Linked DNA regions of Homo sapiens. The protein of the gene in region 2 purifies or fractionates together with the protein of the main gene of each other region. This does not show direct contact. Each region holds a gene or a part of one and is shown on either strand. Other genes may lie near its edges. The genes, in order: PLBD1 and OR1N1.

The links.
Region 1: the proteins of OR1N1 (region 2) and PLBD1 purify together in Homo sapiens (affinity purification with mass spectrometry; one large-scale study listed by BioGRID and IntAct). This does not show direct contact.

Annotation. Positions count from the first base shown.
Region 1 is NC_000012.12:14,557,646-14,561,474, forward strand, and holds part of PLBD1 (phospholipase B-like 1 precursor), read right to left. Parts: intron 1-3,829. UniProt on the Homo sapiens protein: In view of the small size of the putative binding pocket, it has been proposed that it may act as an amidase or a peptidase.
Region 2 is NC_000009.12:122,525,652-122,528,806, forward strand, and holds OR1N1 (olfactory receptor 1N1), read right to left. Parts: upstream 1,643-3,155; coding exon 707-1,642; downstream 1-706. UniProt on the Homo sapiens protein: Odorant receptor.

The DNA.
Region 1 (3,829 bases), on a different chromosome or scaffold from region 2:
ACACATAGAAGGGAACAACAGACACTGGGACCTACTTCAGGGTGGAGGGAAGAAGGAGAGAATCAGGAAAAATAACTAATGGGTACTAAGCTTAATACCTGGGTGATGAAATAATTCATACAATGACTCCTGTGACACACATTTACCTATACAGTAAACCCGCACATGTATCCCTGAACTTAAAATAAAAGTTAAAAACAGAAATACCATTCAACCCAGTAATCCCATTACTGGGCATATACCCAAAGGAATATAAATTGTTCTATCATAAAGACACTTGCATACGTATGTTCATTGCAGCATTATTCACAATAGCAAAGACACAGAATCAACCTAAATGCCCATCAGTGGTAAACTGGATAAAGAAATTGTGGTACATATACACAATGAAATACTACGTAGCCAAAAAAAAAAAAAAAAAAGACTGTCTATCAAATATGCACTAAAAGTAGAGTCTTAATACTAGAGCATCATGGCACCGTGCTCCCGGGGCTCGGTGATAGGCTGGGGCTTAGTCAGGCTTAGAAACTAATCCTGATTAAACGCTTAAGGAATGATCTGAGTAGGCCTAAGTCAATTGACTTCTGAGTACAATGACCATCATGGCAGGCCTTCACAATCGTTAATCGGAAGTAATGGCATTAAGAAATAGGGAGGTGTCAAATAATTTGCCAATAAACTGCGGGTGACAAATAATTGTCTGATTGTTAATGGAGCCATTTGGCCACAATTTGACAATTGTAGGCAGCACCCACAGAAACTTCCCTTCTCCACCCAAAGGCAATAAATGTGTTTTCCAAATCCATTTTTGACCATATATCCCCAGCTTTTCTCACACATTCCCTTCCACCCTCGACTCCAGGGAGCGTTGTAGGGAAATGAGGAAGTGTGGCTGCTGGAATAAAAAGCAGAGTCATAAACAGGAACCATAAAAGAAAAAAGGAAGGTGTGTCTCTTCTCTTTTCTTTCTACCCACAAAGCATGATTTTAGCTTTTTCTTCTTCTCCAAAACCTTGGCATTTCTCATCGTAAGCACCCCAGGCCTGCCTTCCCCTTCCCTTTCCAATCAACTCCTTTTTGCTGTAATTTGGGGCTTGCTCAAGGCAACCTGAGTACTAAACCAAGAGCTATGTTTTCACTGTTGCTGGTCCTACCTAATTTCCTGACCACAAAAAGAAACTTCTGCAAATATGTGCTTTTTTGACACTCGTGTACCTCCATGAATGAAAAAACCTTTACTCAATCCCCAAGAGATTTTGGTGAGAAAAATGTCCTGCCAACAGCTTAGCATGTGCTTTGAGAATAAAGCCAAAATCAGAGTTTTCACTCCACTCCAACCGAGGTCCTCCATTCCTCAATGTTTTCTCTAAGTTTCAACTCTTCCTGGTTTTCCCAGTATTCATGCTATTTTCTGATTTTCTTAAATCCTGTAATAGTTTAAGCCATTATACTTTTCCATTTTTTAAAAACATCTTCATGATGGGAGGTGGCTGGTATGAAAAATGTAATAGTGAAAAGGTAGAAAAATAGTACATAATTCTAATGCAAACCTAGTTTTATACAAGCTCTGTGAAAGCGCGGACTGTTTCTGCTTAACACTCTATAAACCTGACAAAATAATGTTTCTTTGATGAATCTAGTTTGTGTGTGTTCTCTAAATGAAAAGAAAGCCATTTATTTATTTATTTATTATTTATTTTTGAGCTGGGGTCTCGCTCTGTTGCTCAGGCTGGAGTGCAGTGGCACAATCACAGCTCACTACAGAGTGGAATTCCTGGGTTCAAGCAATCCTCCTACCTGAGCCTCCCAGAAAAGGAAGCTCATCAGAGCACTCATTCACAGAAGTTAGTATGAAATAACTCAAGTAATTATGTTTTCAAGCCTGGGTGAGAAACTTACTAAATGGCTCGGAATCTTGGATTAAGTCTACCCAGCCCCAAGAGCAAGAGCTATTTGTTGGTATTTTCTTTAGAGTTGTGAAAAGGAAAAGTCAGAATTCAAACATTTTAACAGCAATATCCTCAAAATCAATGCACTTGATTAAATATCTGTTGAATGAATGGGAATCTTATTTATAAAAAGTATTTTTTTCTATAAATAAAGATGGAAAATGTGCCATCATTTTTATATTTCTCTCTGTAAAAGCCCAAACACCAAAATTAAATTTATTTTATTAATATTTACTTGTATACTCTGATTAATATTTTATTTATTTAATTTTTTTTTTTTTTGAGACAGAGTTTTCGCTCTTATTGCCCAGGCTGGAGTGCAATGGTGCGATCTTGGCTCACCACAGCCTCCGCCTCCCGGGTTCAAGCGATTCTCCTGCCTCAGCCTCCCAAGTTGCTGGGATTACAGGCATGCGCCGCCACGCCTGGCTAATTTTGTATTTTTAGTACAGACAGGGTTTCTCCATGTTGATCAGGCTGGTCTCGAACTCTTGACCTCAGGTGATTTGCCTGCCTTGGCCTCCCAAAGTGCTGGGATTACAGGCATGAGCCACTGCGCCCAGCCCAATTAATATTTTCTATGAGTTCATTGTTTTCAGTTGAAAAAATTCCTACCCTGTCTTAGGAAAAAAAATGTATAAAATACTCATAAGTAGCTTAAACTATTCTCTCCCATATTTGGATTCTATAATAATTTTTCTAGCACCTCATTTATGAAAGAGCAGGTAGTTTTCAACCCCAAGCAATGCAATGTTTACTTAATATATTCAGAAGTCAGAGGGGAAAAAAAGAGAAAGAAATGAGAAAGAGATCAAGCAAAAGATGTTGGAGAAAATAGAAAAAAATTAAAATGAAAACAATCTATTCATATTGGGTTTAGCTAAAAATTCACTGGTTTTGGTCCTTGAATTGCTTTTCTCTTTTATGTCTGCTCGGCTAGTCTCTCAGTATACCTCTGTGTACCTTGGCATTGCACTTGCCTTCTTTGAAAGGTCTCTCAGTAAATTGATACCTGGTTTTTGGATTTGTTTTGACTCTTCATCGGAGTCACTAACGAAATAACTGATTTGTAAATTAAACAATCTCCAGTAAACAAAATTGCAAGTAGGTGTTTAAGCCTTGGCTCTCTCCAGATATCAGAGACTAAGATGCCTGCTGGAAGGAGGATTATTTTGGCAAGTACTTCCAGAGAACAGGAGTGGTGGGCTGGGAGAGTGAAAGGGAGGAACACCGATTGAAGGGTGCATTCTGAGCTGGTTTCCACTGTGGACACAGGGGTTGATCCCACTGGGACTAGCCTCGGAAATCTTCATCCCAGGGATGGAGGACCCAGCTACCTGCTCCCATACTACAAAGGTCAAACGTTGCCCTAGGAAGGGTTAACTCCCTCACTCCATGTCTGCATGTGCTCCAGGACTAAGTGGCTGTGATTTCAGAGACGCCCTGAGGTGGAAATTAAGAGATTTCTACAGTGAGGTTGAGATGAGGCACCTCAGATCACCTGCAGGAAGTGGAAATAAAAGGCAAGTGAGAGGATGTGAGGTGGGCCTCAGGGTCAGGAAGTGCAGGACACACTAGATAAGTAGAAAGGGATACAGCTTTAAAAACTAGCTTCAAAACAACAATCCACAAATGCAGAAAAATGCCGGAGATTTGCTTAGATCTGGAATGATCCCTTTCCTTCATCCCGTTGAAACATACCGATTTGTCACTGGCAGCTGAAATCAGAGTTCTTGCCAAAAGCCCTATCAGCTGAAAGTCAACTTTGCCCCATTCTGGTTCCATGCTGTTAGGTCAGTCCTCATCTAGATTACTCATTAATTATGCATTTGTGTCTGCTTGGTCCTAAAAATTTGATTACAAGCTCCTTGCAGATGAGA
Region 2 (3,155 bases):
GTGGCATTGCACGTTTCTGACCAGCATGGGGCAGAGGTAGCACAAGGAGCTTTAACCCCCTTCCTAGTGAAACATTAGCCAACCGTGGGGTGGGCAACCCGCATGGAAACCTAAACATTGAATTTGAACCTTTTGATGGGGATCTCTTTAGCTATTCTGCAGCACATGGAATGCAGCCTCCATCTTTATTTCTTTTGTCTTACTCCCCACTTAATGCCACAAACAAAACAAGTGCCCCCAAAATTTTAATGATCGACAAATTAATAACCTAGAATGAAAGTGTCATGAAAGCAGGGACTTTGTCTTGCTCAGTGTCATAACCCTAGCACTTACAATAACTTCCAACACACCATAGATAGTAAATATTTATTGAACAAATATATCTCAGAGAAAAGATTTTTTGACTTCTGAGTTGGGGGAGGAATGAAGAATACTAATAGTAATAATAATAGCTATCCCTTATTGAACACCTACTGTTATTCACTACTATACTGAATGCATTTCATAGTTTATTTCAGTTAATCCTCCAAGTTACATTATTAGATAGAAACTGTTATCTCCATTTTATAAATGAGAAAACCAAGGCTCAGAGAGGCTAAGTAACCAGACTACAATCTTATGGCTAGTGTGTGGTAGACCCCAAAATGAAGCCCGTTTGTCTGACTCCAAGCCTATGTCTTTTCATTAAATGTTGCTGTCACCACATCTAAGAGGAAACAATACTCCTGTGACTGAAGAGCCTCTTTAGGGCCCCCTTCATGTCCTTGTTCCTTAGGCTATAGATAAAGGGGTTCAACATGGGAGTCACTATGGTGTACATTGCAGCTGCTGCAATGTCCTTCTCTTCAGAGGCAATGGAGGGAGGACACAGGTAGGCACTGAAGAGGGTCCCATAGAACACACAAACAACGCAGAGGTGGGAACTGCAGGTGGAAAAGGCCTTGCCCACCCCACCACGGGTTCGGACCCTCAGGATAGCTGGCACAATGTGGATGTAGGAGGTGACAATGCATAAAAAGGGGACGATGAGTACGGTGCCTCCCAAGACAAAAACCATCATCTCGTTGATGTGGGTGTCAGAACATGACAGCTTCAGGACAGGAGTGATGTCACAGAAAAAGTGAGCAATTTCCCCAGTCACACAGAAGGACAACCGAGCCATGAGGAACGTGTGAGTCAGGGCAACGATATTGGTGAGGACCCAGCACAATGCAAGCATTAGGGCACAGACTTGGGGCCTCATGACTGTGGAGTAGCAGAGGGGGTGGCAAATGGCCACATAGCGGTCATACGCCATGGCAGCCAGGAAGAAGCTGTCTAGATCACCAAACATCAGAAAGAAATACATTTGCGTGAGGCAACCCGTATAGGAGATGGTGTGATGCCGAGTCTGTATATTCACCAGCATCTTGGTAACTGTGGAGGACGTTAAACCCATGTCAACAAAAGACAGGTTGGCCAAGAAAAAGTACATGGGGGTGTGGAGGTGCAGGTCAGAGCCAATGGCCAGGATGATGAGCAGGTTCCCAGTCAAGGTGACAAGATACATACACAGGAAAATTCCGAAGAGGGACTGCTGTTGCTCTGGAGGCGCTGATATTCCTCGGAGGAAAAATTCAGAAATGCTGGATTGGTTTTCCATGACTCTGCAGCATCTGGAGCTGAGGGAAGACAGTTAGAATGCTAGATTTCATCTACAACTGTGTGGGCTGACTCCCAAATCTCCCTTTAAGTTCATTATATTCCTAATCCTGACTTTATCTTCATTCTGATCCTGCTTCTTTTCTCTCTTCATCAGAGTCTCATTTTCCCCCTTTCTCCTCTCTTTACCACTATTTAATCTTTTACACATAGAGTCCCCTTCCAATAAGGTCAGGGCATATTCTCCCTTGGCATGACCATGCCTTAGACTAGTCTATAGCCTCATGTTAGTTTCATTTTTGCAGTAGGCTGTCTATGTGAGTAGACTGAGGTCAGCTAAATTTTACATTCTTTTGGGAGGTAGCCAAAAAACCCACACAAAATTCTTAATTTTGACACATCCTCATTCATTTTAGAGTGAAGGGCATATGAAGGACTCATGCCTCTTTATTTTTTCATTATTTCTTTTGAAAAAGAAAATACGAAGTCCTGCATTTCTCCCTGCATTTGAGTTTTTGTCATTGGCATCATCATCATCCTGTAGCTAACGCATATTACATGTTAGCCACATATATGACAGGTACTCTACTAAGTACTTTATGAAGATTGTTTCCTTTAATCCTTAAACAACACTAGGATGCAGAGATTGTTATTCTTACCCTTATATAAGAAAACTGAGTCTAAGGATGTTTAAGTAAATTGTACAAGGACCCAGAGCTCATAAATATTTGAGACAGAATTCAAACCCACAGCAATGGTTTCCAGAGACTGTACCATCAGTCAATATAGATAGAAAGTAACTTTCTAGGACCACATTTATATTTAATCCCTCAGTATTCTTAGTTTAACGTATTTAGTCTCACTTGCCTTTACTATCTTTTATATGTGTGTTTTACAGAAGAACAACGAAATTTAAGAACTAGATAGAACCTGAAAGATCACCTGGCCCAGAGGTCTCAAGCATTGGTCTGTAGACCAGTTTATCATAATCAAGTGAGATGCTTATTTAAAATCCTGATCCCGGCTGGGCACAGTGGCTCATGCCTGTAATCCCAGCACTTTGGGAGACCGAGGCAGGCGGATCTACCTGAGGTCAGTAGTTCAAGACCAGCCTGACCAACATGACAAAACCCCATCTCTATTAAAAATACAAAAATTAGCCGGGTGTGGTGGCATGTGCCTGTAATCCCAGCTACTTGGTAGGCTGAGGCCGGAGAAGCACTTGAGCCTGGGAGTTGGAGGTTGCAGTGAGCCGAGATCATGCCATTGCACTCCAGCCTGGGCAATAGAGCAAGACTCCGTCTAAAATAAATAAATAAATAAAGATAAAAATAATAATCCCTACCTCAGACCTGTCAAATTTAAATTTCTAGGATACAATTTAGGTACCTGTATTTAAAAACTAAAACTGAAGGCTTCTCAGGTATTTTGATGCTCAGTGAGGATTAAGAAAATTTTGCTTAGTCCAACTCCTCCCTTTGATTCAGATAAATAAGCTAAAGTTCAAAAGACCA